4 linked regions of the Homo sapiens genome follow. The protein of the gene in region 4 interacts with the protein of the main gene of each other region in a biochemical or structural test. Each region holds a gene or a part of one and is shown on either strand. Other genes may lie near its edges.

Region 1 (4,072 bases), on a different chromosome or scaffold from region 4:
ACAGGGTCCTACTATATTGCCCAGGCTGGCCTCGGACTCCTGGGCTCAAGCGATCTTCCGCCTCAGCCTCCCAAAGTGCTAGGATTACGGGCATGAGCCACCACGCCTGGCCTGGGCCTTAGATTTCTTATATTTAAAGTAAGCATAATGACATTCATTTGGTGAATTTGTGAGAACCAAAAACAAAGAAACAAACAAAACCTACAACACGTCTGACACAAAACTATTTATTTTCCATTAATCTTCTTTTTTTTTTTTTTTTTTTTTTTTGACACAGAGTCCTGCTCTGTCGCCCAGGCTGGAATGCAGTGGCGCGATCTCGGCTCACTGCAACCTCTGCCTCCCAGATTCAAGCAATTCTCCTGCTTCAGCCTCCCAAGTAGCTGGGATTACAGGCACGTGCCACCATGCCTGGCTAATTTTTGTATTTTTAGTAGAGATGGGGTTTCACCATCTTGGTCAGGCTGGTCTCAAACTCCTGGTGATCCACCTGCCTCTGCCTCCCAAAGTGCTGGGATTACAGCCGTGAGCCACTGCACCCAGCCGGCTTCATCTCTTCTTGAAATCACTTTTATACCATTCTATGTGGTTCTCACCATGAGCTTGAGTGGTGGGCTAAAGTGCCTCTCCCTGCTTTCAGCTTCCTGCTGGGAACTCACTCTCTCAAGTTCCTTCCAGCACCACCCCATAGAGTTCCCATCACTCCACACTGTCCAGTGACAACTCCCAACATGGAAGATCTGCTAGTTCTACAGGGTGCTCTCTGGCTGCCCCAGTAACATGTGTTTTTAAATTTTTCACATGCATGTTTGACCCCGACTCCCCGAAGTCAGGTACTGTAACTAGCAGTGTCATTTAAGAAAAAGCCCTTTAACCTCTCTTTGCCAAAGGATTCTTATCAGCAAAACAGTGATGAAACAACAATCCCATAACAGCTAGCTGGCTACCTTCTCAAGCACTTATTAAATGAGGCATAATGATTTTGCTTAATCCTCAATCCTGAGAGGTGGGCGATCCCTGTGGTGATGAGGAAACCGAGGCTTGGGGGTTAATGGCTTGCCTAGATTCACACTGCTAGCCAAGGAATGAACTGGAATTTACACCCTGACCCTGACTGCTTTTCACATTTTCTACACAGCCTTTTCAAGATCCCTGCCAATTCTAAAATTAAATGATTCTATGATTAACTGTGTTTCATTCTTCTGCATCAGTTCCCAAAACAAATTATATCAAGAGACAGCAAAAATATTTGTAAAGAAAGGATGTCCAACAATCTGTGTGGTTGTTTTTCTGTGTTCCTCCAATGGTAGGGCCTCTGTTCACCAGTGCCGTCTCTTCTTTTAGCTGTAAGAAAAGCCTGGAGTGCACGAAGTTGTGCCTACCCCAGATTGAGAATGTTAAGGGCACTGAGGACTCAGGTGAGGAGAAGTGACCTGGTGCCCATGCTCACCTGCCCTCTCCCTCTTCTTGCCCCCACCCGTCCATCCATCCCACCCATCCATCTATCCCTGCGGCCCCCCTCTGCCCGCTCCTCTGACCAACACCTGCTTTGTCTGCAGGCACCACAGTGCTGTTGCCCCTGGTCATTTTCTTTGGTCTTTGCCTTTTATCCCTCCTCTTCATTGGTTTAATGTATCGCTACCAACGGTGGAAGTCCAAGCTCTACTCCATTGGTGAGTGGGGGCTTTGGGAGGGAGAGGGAGCTGGTGGGGGTGAGGGAGGACATGGGTGGGTGCGATGGACATGTGTGGAGGGAGGTGAGGAGTGTCCCCTCAGTTCATACCGCTGGGGACTCTGGGCAGAAGGTGGCCCTGGATGGCTGGGGAGATGTCGAGCTGCATCAGTAGCTCTCTCGTCCCTGGGGCCACATAGGCCCTGAGGCATGTCACCACAAGTCCCCACTGCCAGCTGAGTCCAGGGTGCCAGGGCTGAGAGAGGAAGTGAAATTTATGATGCTTTCTTTCTTTTTCCTCAGTTTGTGGGAAATCGACACCTGAAAAAGAGGTGAGATGAAATGAGAGAGTTACTCCCAAATGTCCCTGACCATTCCTTATAATTGCCTAATGCTCAGATCCCCTGGAATCATCCTTCACTTTCCGGGGGCTCGCCTCATTCCCTCTAAGTCCCAACCCCCACGTAGAATAAAGAGGGCCGGGGCTGGTTTTCGCTGCCGCACTAATGCTGCGCCACCTTCTCTCTTTCAGGGGGAGCTTGAAGGAACTACTACTAAGCCCCTGGCCCCAAACCCAAGCTTCAGTCCCACTCCAGGCTTCACCCCCACCCTGGGCTTCAGTCCCGTGCCCAGTTCCACCTTCACCTCCAGCTCCACCTATACCCCCGGTGACTGTCCCAACTTTGCGGCTCCCCGCAGAGAGGTGGCACCACCCTATCAGGGGGCTGACCCCATCCTTGCGACAGCCCTCGCCTCCGACCCCATCCCCAACCCCCTTCAGAAGTGGGAGGACAGCGCCCACAAGCCACAGAGCCTAGACAGTGAGTTTCTCCCGCGGCTGGAGACGAGGAGGCTGGGGGAGGGCCGGGGGAGCGCGGGAGGCGCTCCCAGAGGGGACCACGAGAGGCGGAGGGCGCGGGATGCGGGGCGGGGCCTGGGGTTGCCGCCCGAGGCTCACCGGCCCGCGTCCCCGCAGCTGATGACCCCGCGACGCTGTACGCCGTGGTGGAGAACGTGCCCCCGTTGCGCTGGAAGGAATTCGTGCGGCGCCTAGGGCTGAGCGACCACGAGATCGATCGGCTGGAGCTGCAGAACGGGCGCTGCCTGCGCGAGGCGCAATACAGCATGCTGGCGACCTGGAGGCGGCGCACGCCGCGGCGCGAGGCCACGCTGGAGCTGCTGGGACGCGTGCTCCGCGACATGGACCTGCTGGGCTGCCTGGAGGACATCGAGGAGGCGCTTTGCGGCCCCGCCGCCCTCCCGCCCGCGCCCAGTCTTCTCAGATGAGGCTGCGCCCCTGCGGGCAGCTCTAAGGACCGTCCTGCGAGATCGCCTTCCAACCCCACTTTTTTCTGGAAAGGAGGGGTCCTGCAGGGGCAAGCAGGAGCTAGCAGCCGCCTACTTGGTGCTAACCCCTCGATGTACATAGCTTTTCTCAGCTGCCTGCGCGCCGCCGACAGTCAGCGCTGTGCGCGCGGAGAGAGGTGCGCCGTGGGCTCAAGAGCCTGAGTGGGTGGTTTGCGAGGATGAGGGACGCTATGCCTCATGCCCGTTTTGGGTGTCCTCACCAGCAAGGCTGCTCGGGGGCCCCTGGTTCGTCCCTGAGCCTTTTTCACAGTGCATAAGCAGTTTTTTTTGTTTTTGTTTTGTTTTGTTTTGTTTTTAAATCAATCATGTTACACTAATAGAAACTTGGCACTCCTGTGCCCTCTGCCTGGACAAGCACATAGCAAGCTGAACTGTCCTAAGGCAGGGGCGAGCACGGAACAATGGGGCCTTCAGCTGGAGCTGTGGACTTTTGTACATACACTAAAATTCTGAAGTTAAAGCTCTGCTCTTGGAGACAGTGGTCTGTCGGGATGGGAGGTGGGGGCAGAGGCCCAGATCCTGAGGGGTGAGATGGGAAAAGCCCTGCACTAGGGCCAGGTAGCCCATCACCATCACGCCAAGTGACAGAGGAGTAGCAGGTTCTTGTTCTGAACACCGTCATCTGTTGCCCAAGCTGGAGTGCGCTCACTGCAGCCTCCAACCCTTGGGCTCATGGGGTCCTCCCGCCTCAGCCTCCGGACACAGGCACACCACCACACCTGGGTAATTTTTAAAATTTTTTTTTGTAAAGACAGGGTTTCCCTATATTGCCCAGGCTGGTCTGGAACTCCTGGGCTCAAGGGATCCTCCCACCTCAGCCTCCCAAAGTGCTGGGATTACAGGCAGCCATGCCCAGCCAGGGCAGTCATTTTTATGCACAACTTTCTGTGGGGCTCAGGTGCACCTATGATACATAAATTTACAGTTCTTGATCCCCAAACAGAGCAGGAGGCAGGGTGCCTGGGCCAGGCTTCCTTTGGGAAATGTGGTCCTTGAGGTAGAGTCACAGATGCCGGAGGGTGACCAGCACTA
Region 2 (3,766 bases), on a different chromosome or scaffold from region 4:
GGCTACCTGGAAATATACATATCTTATACATATCAAGTATTAAAAACAACAATGCTACACAATCATTTAAAAACACACTGGAAAAATTTAAAAGGTAGAGGTAGTCAATATTTCATTTATAGTAAATGAAATACAAAACGAAGTATTTGTGGTTCATACTAATATATTGGGGTGATTTGTTTTTAGAAACCCAAACTATTTGATAGAAATAAATTTTAATTAAACTGGTTTTTCCTAAATTGCAGAAAGTTAAATCCACGTACTACTATTTTGTAATTTAAAACATTAACATACCTGCCATCCATTCAATGAAGAGATTGTAATTGCTCTTCTCACACGTGGCTCCCAACATCCTAATGATGTTTGGATGATTCAGATGGCTCATCATTCTTATCTCTTCTCTTAGTGCTTCTACTACTTCTTCTTGCTCAGAAGATGTGTTTCTGACATAAGTCACCTGTTTCAAATAAACACGTTCACAAAGTTTTGCATATTTTCACTAGCAATCTGATCTAAAATGAACAAATGCAAACTAGCACTTTATTAGCAACAGATGGCATTTATGCTTATGGATGCAATGTACTTTAAACAAACCCAAGTCAAACTCTTTTAAACACTAAGAATCTAGCTTAAGCAGCAGTAAACATCAGAAAAATGACAAAAATATTGGGATATAGTCAATATTCCAATAGTCTCAGAGTAAAGATGAGAAAAGCCCAAATATGGGAGAAGAATCAACATGATTTAAAAATGAAAGTTTAATAATTTTCCTATCCTGATTAAGTATGCTCGTTATAATAAAAAGTAAACCACTGAAACCCCAAGATGGCACCGCACAAGTACACTGTTGAAAGAAGTACCTGAAAACCACCTCTACTACCTACAAAAAGCAAAACCAAAAAAACCTTTGTAAGGCCCATCTTGATATTGTAGTCTTACAATAATCATACTTCAACTTTTATTTATTTTTTTTTGAGACAGTCTTGCTCTGTTGCTCAGGCTGGAGTACAGTGGTGCGATCTCGGCTCACTGCAACCTCTACCTCCTGAGTTCAAGCAATTCTTCTGTCTCAGCCTCCTGAGTAGCTGGGACTACAGGTGCCTACCACCCTGCCCGGCCGATTTTTGTATTTTTAGTAGAGGTAGGGTTTCACCATGCTGGCCAGGCTGGTCTTGAACTCCTGGCCTCAAATGATCCAACCACCTTGGCCTCCCAAAGTGCTGGGATTACAGGTGTGAGCCACCACGCGTGGCCTCAACTTTTAACAATAACAGAATTCATGATGTTTCTGGTGCTTTAGAAACATCTACTTTGAAACTAAGTTTCTCAAAGTTTAAAGAACTAAAGTACACACACGTGGACATATCCTTTATTCTTTTTACTGAACATGCTTCATTTTGTGATTTGAGTCATTTCATTTATATGCTCACTAGATATTTACCTGTTTAACAGCCATTAAAGTTCCAGTTCCCACATCTTGAGCCTGATAACAAGAAGAAAATGCTCCAAGGCCTATCTGTTGACCTTTCAGCCATTCAGTGTCTTCTCTATACGGTTGTTTTGCTTTGGTATGTCCTGGTAGAGTCTCTGGTGTCTACATATTAAACGAAAGCAATCTTTTTACTGTTAAAGGAGTAAGATTTTGTGAAATTAGTCTGCAAGATATTATTCTTATTCAGTCTGGCTTCCCAAACCACCTATAAATGTGACCTCTGAATGGAAGGTATTTGTGACCGACAGCAAATGCAAAAGTAATCACCATTATACAATTAACCGGAAATGCCCATAGGCAAGAATTATTGCTGTTTAAACAGTACAAACATTATTGTTGTATAAGTAATAATTTTATGTGGAAAACTCTGCTTCTGAATGTTAGAAGCAGCATTTCTGAATTAGGTTTATTTTAGTATGGTCCAAGGAAGCTCTCTGTGAGACAGTGTCTTGCTCTGTCATTCAGGCTAGAGTACAATGGTGTAATCACAGCTCACTGTAGCCTCAAACTCCCAGGTTCAAGTGACCCTCCCCACCTCAGCTTCCTGAGTAGCTGGGACCCCAGGTGTACACTATCATGCCTGGCTAATTTTTAAAATTTTTTGTAGAGACAGGGTCTTGCTTTGTTGACCAGGCTAGTTTCGAACTCCTGTGCTCAAGCAATCCTTCGGCCTCAGCCTCCCCAAGTGCTGGAATTCCAGGTATGAGTCACTGTGCCCAGCCCCAAGGAAGTTTTCTAACCTCTTAAAGAATCTATACTTACATCCTGTTGAATAATGATGATATCTTCTCCATTTTCAACCTGCAGCTGAGGAACTATGGGGAGGGCATCCTGAGACGCTGACATTGCCATGGCAATTGCTAAAGCTTCTTCTTCTTCAGCTTCCATCTTCTCTTTGCACTTTTGATTATGATTCACATCATCTTTGTAGGTATCATCATTTTCAGCCTTTTCAGGAGACAGGACAGCAACTTCTGACTTAAAAGTTACTGTTGTATCACTTGAAGGCATAGATGCTTCAAGAAGGTCCTCAATACTGGAGTTGAGCTCTGTATTGACATCTAATCTGCATTTCTCCTCTACTGGGGTGAACACTGTCTCGTCACTGGGTATAACAGCATTACTACTATTGCTGCTACAGCCAAAGCTGTCATCACATTTGGAACTACTGTTCAGATCAAGTGTCATGCTATTTTTTGAGGGATCTCCCTGTTTACTTGTATTACCTGGGGTAGGTCTAGATGGCTTTGGCCTGTGTATGTTACTGGAGGGCAAGGGTCTTGACTGAGTAAAGACTGGGGAAAGTTTATCTGAGTCTTTGTTTTCAGGACAGTTTCTGTGGAATTGTAGAGAAAACTTGCGCTGTGTTTGAGGAGATGCAGAAGGTATTCTGCAGGGAATGAATCCCTGAAGTCTATGCTTAGAGACATCTGTTGCAGTGCCAGCTGGTACAGATGGGGTAGAAGAAGAAGGGGTTGACAAGGCTGGAAACATTAATTGGGAATGATGAGATAAAGGAGAGGAGTTCAAACACTGACTGTGGGGTCTGCCTTTTGTTTGAACCATTGGCTTTGGTTGCTCTGTTGTTGTTGTTGTTGTTGTTGTTGAACTAGAAGGTCCTACTGAAATGCTGGCCAGTCTCTCAGAAATGTCCTCTGAACTGGCACTCAATTTTGTAGCACATAATCCTTTTCCAGTTTTCTCTAAATGGACTGTGCACTCAGGGGAACTGTTCTCTGTGGTTTCCAGATAGTTGTTGGGAACAGATGCCTGCAAGAAGCTGTCCTGTTGACCATCCAAAGTGTCTTCTACGCCCAACTGGATGGCTTCGGCAATTTCCACCTCATCTGCAATAGCCATCAAACGGCGACGCATCCTGGTGAAGTGAGTGGAACTGGAAACACTCAGCATTTCTAACAGTTTTGAAAACACATGGGGTACTGTAGTAACCATTCTTGCAGAACTCAAGTAGATCCTTCTGGAAAGTTTGCCAACCATTGAGTGGGAATTATCAATGGACTGCAAAGCAAAGGTTAAGAGGGACAGCAGCTTCTTATACCTGAAAGAAAAAAACATTCATTACCATATAAGTTCCAATTACTGAAAAATACATGGAAACTTAAAAAATGGTAGTAATTTACAGCATGTATACTTCAAAAACCATTTCAGCATAAAGTATCTATGAATTTTTAATTAAAGAGCCCAGACTTTGGGTTTTCATATGTCAATCAAATATTAAGGTATCAGCAACCTATTCATGCTCTGAGTCTTTCA
Region 3 (3,766 bases), on a different chromosome or scaffold from region 4:
GGCTTCCAAAGATTCACATTTTGAAAACTCTATGGATTTAGGAGGGTTCTCCAGGTTTGCCCACAAGGCCTCTTTGTGTAGGGACCATTCATCCTAAGGAAATCATTCAAATGCAGCCTTGCTGTGGGAATCTCCATCCACTAATAACTGACGGACACCCCCACCCCAGCTTCGGACCTCAAGACGTGAGAGGGCTGCCTATGCACAGGGTGTGGAAGGCTGTGGGGACAGTGCAGGGCACAGACGTGGTGGGGAGAGTGGCCTGCATTTGCATAGTTCCTTTACTAGGGCTCAAGGTGTTGAGGTCCACACTCAAGAGAGGATTCGGGAGTTGGGGAAGGGAGGTCATGAGGGACCTCTGTGAGCATCTTAGGCCTTACACTTCCACACACCTCCTGCCGTGGGCCATCGGGAAGCATGCAGGCCACAGGCCTTCCCCCTCTGAGCCCCCATCTCAGGGAAAAGACATCATAAGTTACAGAAACAGGACAACTGGGGAGCAAGGACGCCCCCCTTGGCAAGCTTCTTTATGTGCTCCCCAGGGTGGGGAAAGTGGCCCAGGACTGTGTTGGGACACACTTGTAGACAAGTGCCTTGTGATGCTGGGAGCAGGGTACAGTGTGTTTCCTAAACATGGCAGCTCGGGACACCTTTGCCCACGGCCTCCCCCACGGACCTCTCGAGCAGAGGTGGTGGGGGTGCCCTAGGGTTTCAACTTCCCCTCCTTGGCTAGTCTGTCATTGAGCTGGCAGAGCTGGGCCAGGAAGCCATCGTTGGGGCCGATCTCACGGTTCTGCCTCACGATGCTCAGGGCAGACTTGACGTCCATCTTCTGCCGCATCATGAGGTAGGCGATAACTAGCGTTGGGGAGCGGCTATAACCTTCCCGGCAGTGGACGAGCACCCGGCCTGTAAGAAACAGGGGAGACGTGGTGAGCTGGGGGCGTCCCATCACACCATGGCGTTGGTCAAGACTCTTCCGTGAAGTGCCACTTAAAAGCACAATGTCACGCCACTGTGTGCCTGTCAGAATGGCTAAAATGAAAAGGATGGAAAACCCAAAGTGCTGGTGAAGATATGGGGCAACTGGAACTCTTCTGCGTGGCTGGGGGAGGTGAGGCGTGAATTGGCACAACCACTTTGGAAAGCTGTGCGGCACGGCGGTATCTCCTCAAGCTGAACACGTGCATCCCCTCTGGCCCAGCAATCCCACTCCCAGGCCCAGGTCCAATAGAGATACGCATTCACATTCACGAACATGGGCCAGAATGTTCACAGGCAACACTGCACATCATGGCCCACAGTTAGAAACCCCCAAAGGCCCATCCACAGTAGAAAGGACAAATACAAAGAATGACCAGACTGCCACTTAGCAGAAGCAACACGGAGGCAGCACACACATATGAGGTGGATGAGCCCACAGAGTAGGAAAGCGGGCAAAACCATCTGTGCTGTCAGAAGCCTGCAAGGGGCTGGGCACAGTGGCTCACGCCTGTAATCCCAGCACTTTGGGAGGCCAAGGCAACTGGATCACAAGGTCAGGAGTTCGAGACCAGACTGGCCAACATAGTGAAATCCCGTCTTTACTAAAGATACAAAAAAATAGCTGGGTGTGGTGGCGCGAGCCTATAATCCCAGCTACTCAGGAGGCTGAGGCCAGAGAATTGCTTGAACCCAGGAGGCAGAGGTTGCGGTGAGGTGAGATTGTGCTGAGATTGTGCTCCAGCCTGGGTGACAGAGCGAGACTCTGTCTCAAAAAAAAAAAGAAGCCCGCGTGGCAGAGGCCCTGGGAGCTGGGGATGGGGGTGGTGGAGCATAGAGACTGGGGGTGCTTTCCAGGGTGCTGGTAGTGTTTTGTTTCTTTTTTTTTGAGATGGAGTTTCCTTCTTGTTGCCCAGGCTGGAGTGCAGTGGCGCGATCTCGGCTCACTTCAGCCTCCGCCTCCCGGGTTCAAGCAATTCTCCTGCCTCAGCCTCCTGAGTAGCTGGGACTACAGGCGCATGCCACCATGCCCAGCTAATTTTTTTGTATCTTTTAGTAGAGGTGGGGTTATTTTAATATAGTGTGTGTGTGCGTGTATATATATGTGTGTGTGTGTGTGTGTGTGTGTGTGTGTATGTGTGTGTATATATATATATATAAATAGACACCATCTCTCAATATCCACAGGGCAGATTGGCTCCAGGACCTCCTGCCGATACCCAAATCCACAGATGCTCAAGTCCCTGATTATAAAATGACATCATATATGCAAATAACCTCTGCACAGCACATCCTCCCCTATACTTTAAATCATCTCCAGATGACTTATGATACCCAAGACAATGTAAACATTTATTAGATTATATCATCTAGAGAATAATGACAAGAAAAAAAATCTGTACATGTTCAGTACAGACATAACATCTTTTTATGTTGTTTTTAATATTTTTCAGACTGAGGTTAGTTGAATCCACAGATGTGGAACCCACGGATATGGAGGACCGACTGTATATTCTATTGGTTCTGTTTTTTCTAGAGAATCCTGACCAATACACTGGTTATTAACTCATGATCCACCTAACCTCAAGGTGCCTCAGTTTTCTTATCTGGCCAATAGTACCCATTGCACAAGGTGGTTAGATTAAAGGAGAGGACACATGAATCCTCTAGGTTAGCACCTGGCATCCATGTGCACTCAATAAATGTTACCCAATACTGGGCATCCTCTGGTAGCACCTAGTACACCCTCAACTACAGCAGCCCTGGTCCTGTGTCATTGCCAGACATGCGCAGATTGACTTTTCTCTCCCAGAGGACGAATTCTTTAAGAGCAAGAAATGGCCGGACACGGTGGCTCACACCTATAATCCCAACACTTTGGGAGGTCGAGGTGGGCGGATCCCCTGAAGTCAGGAGTTCGAGACCATCCTGGCCAACATGGCGAAACCCCGTTTCTACTAAAAATACAAAAAATTAGCTGGGCATGGTGGCACATGCCTGTAATCCCAGCTACTCAGAAAGCTGAGGCAGGAGAATCACTTGAACCTGGGAGGTGGAGGGTGCAGTGAGCTGAGATTGAGCCACTGTACTCCAGCCTGGGTGACAAGAGCGAGACTCCGTCTCAAAAAAAAAAAAAAAAAAAGGCAAGAAATGTGGGGCATTGATTTTTGGATGCGTTACAATCTCTAGCATACACTATGTGCTCAATAAATATTTGCTGACTAGCTGAGTGAATTATTACCTACTAACACCTCTATAAGGCCATTGTTTGGCAAGGAATCTGCTAGCCCAGAGTCCAACAGAGTCTCTTCTGCTCCTATCACCCTACCCCCAAAACACCACTCTATTTTCCCAATGCCTTCCAAATCAGGAAGCAGGAGTCCTCCACTTTCTTGCCCATTCACCCTCCGGCCTGTATGCCCGAAATATTCAGAGTGGGGCTTCCCCTGCCCCACCCTAGGAATGAGACCCTCTGCAGAGCAGCCACCTTACCATCTAGAACATACTCTGCATGCCCAGTGCACACAGAGCCTACTGGGAAAGGGGCCAGTTCAACCTCCCATTCCTCTAGGCTCAGCCCAGATGCCACCTCCTCCATGAAGCTGTTTTCCCAGCTAGAAGTGACTGCTCCCTCTTGAGTACCCTCAGCCATCCCACCCAGCTCTCAGTGATGGGTCCCTGGGCCCCACACACTGTTGGAGGCCAGCATGTTTCTGTTGACTCACTTCGCCACTCATTCTTAGAAGCATTTATACTTGGCATTAGAGCCCATGGAATTCTTCAT
Region 4 (3,766 bases):
TTAAAAATTATCAAGTGACAAGATGAAAAGGTGTAATTTGTTTGCAGGGTCCTAGACTTCCTGAGACCTAAAAATGTGACCTTAGGCTGAACGCTGTGGCTCACGCCTGTAATCCCAGTTTTGGGAGGCCAAGGTGGGCAGATCAAAAGGTCAGGAGTTCGAGACCAGCCTGGCCAGCATGGTGAAACCCTGTCTCTACTAAAAATACAAAAATGAGCCAGGCGTGGTGGTACGCGTCTGTAGTCCCAGTTACTTGGGAGGCTGAGGCAGAAGAATCGCTTGAACCCGGGAGGAGGAGGTTGCAGTGAGCCGAGATCGGGCCACTACACTCCAGCCTGGGCGACAGAGTGAGACACTGTCTCAAACAAAAACAAAAAAAAAGTGACCTTAATGCAAATTAAAATTAGCAAAGAAACCAAAAGGTGGAGAACTAGACCGTCATTACCAGGTTCCCTTACTGCACTGCCACTGTTTCCAAAAAAAAAAAGGGGGAAGACAACAATTCAGAGTGAGCACTAAAGAAAGCATTATCCAATAGCCATAGGCTCATTTTTCAGGCTAGTGACCTAACAATTTAACAAATAAACGCGAAGCTAAGCCTAAGAAAAAACTAATCAACGAAATAACATTTACCTTTGGAGTCAGCATTTGGGAACAGCCTGTTCCATGGCACCTTATTTTTGTGTGGAAGAGAAAGCAAATAGTTCCTAGCTTTTAAATTTATTATACAATTCAGGTCTTCTTGTGATGGGGATCCAAGAATACCTATCAGATAAAAAAATTAGCTATTAGTTATCAGGACCAAGGTAAATGACTACACACCATCAACTCTGAGTCGGAATGAACCCTGATAATTGATATGAGCCGTTGCTTATCACCACTCCTGATGTTTACCTTTCTTATGTTTTTACACAAAAGTCCTTAACATTTTAAATCAGAGAAGGTTAAAAATTCACACCTACCACAGGTTAAAGAGTATATTAGAACTCTTCTTAATTTAATGAAGTGACTTTGATGTAAGCTGTACAAACTTGAGTAAATCTAGCTCCTGAAGGGCTCGGGAACCTTACCCAAAATGTGGTTCAGCTGGTCAAGATAATGCTTCCCTGGAAAGATGGGCCTGTTAGAAAGCATTTCTGCCAGAATGCAGCCTACAGACCAAATATCAATGGACTTGGTGTAGCCCTGCAGGAGAAAGAGAGAAAAGACTGAAAATGGTATCTGGTGTTACAGGACATGATGAGATCTTCCTGTATGACAGGTGCATTGCTGATGGGACTCTGAACTTCTCCTTTGACTCTACAATTCAGAAATACAAGTAAACAACATGGAAAAGCAAAAAACAATTTGGCTTTCTTATGAGAGGCTGAACAACCAAGATTATGTGATTTTATTTTTCTCTTCATAGTTGATTAACTTGGGCTGGGCACAGTGGCTAATGCCTGTAATCCCAGCACTTTGGGAGGCCGAGGCGGGCGGATCACTTGAGGCCAGGAGTTTGAGACTAGCCTGGCCAACATGGTGAAACCCCATCTCTACTAAAAATACAAAAAAATTAGCCGGGCATGGTAGTGGGTGCCCGTAATCCCAGCTACGTGGGAGGCTGAGGCAGGAGAATTGCTTGAACCCAGGAGGCAGAGGTTGCAGTGAGCCAAGATCGTGCCACTGCACTCCAGCCTGGGTGACAGAGCGAGACTCTGTCTCAAAACAACAACAAACCCACAAAGTTGATTAACTTATTAAATTAGAATTTCCAAAGTATACATCCGTCCTTTTTTGAAACAATTTGAGAGACAGATTTAGAATTGTCATAAATTGGAGCTGGAAAAAGAAAAAAGGTCTAAAAACCTTTTCTGGGTTTGGGGGAGTGTGTGCTAGCTCCATCATATTTTACCAATCTCTTCTAAAATATTCTCAGCTGGGCATGGTGGCTCACGTCTGTAATCCCAGCACTTTGGGATGCCGAGACGGGCGAATCACCTGATGTCAGAAGTTCAAGATCAGCCTGGCCAACATAGTGAAACCCTGTCTCTACTAAAACTACAAAAATTAGCCGGGCGTGGTGGTGGGCACCCATAGTTCCAGCTACTTGGGAGGCAGAGGCAGGAGAATTGCTTGAACCTAGGAGGCAGAGGTTGCAGTGAGCCGAGATTGCACCACTGCACTCCAGCCTGGGCAACACAGGGAGACTCCATCTCCAAAAATAACATAACATAACATATAACATAACATAACATAACATAACATAACATAACATAACATAACATAAACATAACATAAAACATAACATAACATATAACATAACATAACAAATAAAATAAAATAAAAGAATTCTCATCTTCTTTTCCTATTCATTTTTCAGGAATATGTTTTCTTTTAAAGGAATCCTGTTAGAAGTCATGGGAGGATACTTTGGGAGGCTGAGGTGGGAGTACTGCTTGAGGCCAGGAGTTTGAGGCTGCAGTGAACTATGACTGCAGTTGCACTGTTACACTCCTAATAGCAGCATGTGAAAGAAAATGCATTTCCTCATGTCCTCAACAACACTGGGTATTAACTAATTATTATTATTATTATCATTATTATTATTATTTTGCCACACATGGTGGCTCACACCTGCAGTCCCAGCTACTCGGGAGGCTGAGGTGGGAGGATCACTTAAGCCCAGGGATTGGAGGCTGCAGTGAGCTGTGACCGAGCCAATGCATTCCAGCCTGGGTGACAGAGTGAGACCCTTTCTCTAAAAATTAAAAAAAAAAAAAAAAAATCATGGAAGGATTCTGTCTGAATCATAACAATGGTGCAAAAAAGATGTTTCTCCAAGGAATATAAGCTGACTCTTTTAAAATTAAGAGATGGTGTCATCACTCTGTCACTCAGGCTGAAGTGCAATGGTGTAATCATGCCTCACTGCAAATTCAACTTCCTTGTCTCAGGTGATCCTCTCACCTCAGCCAGGTCCTGAGTAGCTGGCACTACTGAGTAGCTGGCACACAGTAGGTGGGCCACAGGCATACACCACCACACCTGGTTGATTTTTAAATTTTTTGTAGAGAAGGGGTCCCACTATTTGCCCAGGCTGGTTTCAAACTCCTGGGCTCAAATGATCCTCCTGCCTCAGCCTCCCAAAGAGCTGGGATTACGGCATGAGGCACCATACCTGGCTCCAGAAGTGCCTTCTAATACAATGAAGTGCTTTTCTGGTATTCATGTTAAAAATGCATGACCCAAAACTGAGGGGCATTCTACAAAATAGCTCATCTGCACTCTTAAAGGAGACTAAAGAAACACAACAACCTGTCTCTATGAAAAGCACAAAAATAAATAAGTAAATCAGCCATGAGCAGTAGCACGTGCCTGTAGTCTCAGATACTTGGGAGGCTAAGGTGGGAGGATGGCCTTGAGCCCAGGAGGCGGAGGTTGCAGTGAGCCGAGATGGTGCCACGGTACCCCAGCCTGGGTGACAGAATGAGAACCCGTCCTTTTTTTTTGAGACGGAGTCTTGCTTTGTCACCCAGGCTGGAGTGCAATGGCACGATCTCAGCTCATGCAACCTCCACCTCCTGGGTTCAAGCGATTCTCCTGCCTCAGCCTCCTGAGTAGCTGGGATCACAGGTGCCTGCCACTATGTCCAGCTAAATTTTTTGTATTTTTAGCAGAGACAGGGTTTTGCCATGTTGGCCAGGCTGATCTCGAACTCCTGACCCCATGTGATTCACCCACCTTGGCCTCCCAGAGTGCTGGGATTACAGGTGTGAGCCACTGT

The links. The genes of interacting proteins can lie anywhere in the genome.
Region 1: the proteins of MAPK1 (region 4) and TNFRSF1A form a complex in vitro, tested with the Homo sapiens proteins (2 studies listed by BioGRID, with this or other methods).
Region 2: of the proteins of MAPK1 (region 4) and MAP3K1, one has a biochemical effect on the other in vitro, tested with the Homo sapiens proteins (3 studies listed by BioGRID).
Region 3: of the proteins of MAPK1 (region 4) and DUSP3, one has a biochemical effect on the other in vitro, tested with the Homo sapiens proteins (2 studies listed by BioGRID and IntAct).

Annotation. Positions count from the first base shown.
Region 1 is NC_000012.12:6,328,199-6,332,270, reverse strand, and holds the end of TNFRSF1A (tumor necrosis factor receptor superfamily member 1A isoform 1 precursor), read left to right. Parts: intron 1-277; exon of another isoform or gene 278-303; coding exon of another isoform or gene 304-395; intron 396-1,344; coding exon 1,345-1,418; intron 1,419-1,559; coding exon 1,560-1,673; intron 1,674-1,975; coding exon 1,976-2,004; intron 2,005-2,204; coding exon 2,205-2,493; intron 2,494-2,648; coding exon 2,649-2,959; 3' UTR 2,960-3,500; downstream 3,501-4,072.
Region 2 is NC_000005.10:56,881,355-56,885,120, reverse strand, and holds part of MAP3K1 (mitogen-activated protein kinase kinase kinase 1), read right to left. Parts: intron 3,552-3,766; coding exon 2,255-3,551; intron 1,595-2,254; coding exon 1,442-1,594; intron 458-1,441; coding exon 295-457; intron 1-294. UniProt on the Homo sapiens protein: Component of a protein kinase signal transduction cascade. Activates the ERK and JNK kinase pathways by phosphorylation of MAP2K1 and MAP2K4. May phosphorylate the MAPK8/JNK1 kinase.
Region 3 is NC_000017.11:43,768,906-43,772,671, forward strand, and holds part of DUSP3 (dual specificity protein phosphatase 3), read right to left. Parts: intron 910-3,766; coding exon 704-909; 3' UTR 1-703. UniProt on the Homo sapiens protein: Shows activity both for tyrosine-protein phosphate and serine-protein phosphate, but displays a strong preference toward phosphotyrosines. Specifically dephosphorylates and inactivates ERK1 and ERK2.
Region 4 is NC_000022.11:21,787,624-21,791,389, forward strand, and holds part of MAPK1 (mitogen-activated protein kinase 1), read right to left. Parts: intron 1,186-3,766; coding exon 1,071-1,185; intron 766-1,070; coding exon 634-765; intron 1-633. UniProt on the Homo sapiens protein: Serine/threonine kinase which acts as an essential component of the MAP kinase signal transduction pathway. MAPK1/ERK2 and MAPK3/ERK1 are the 2 MAPKs which play an important role in the MAPK/ERK cascade.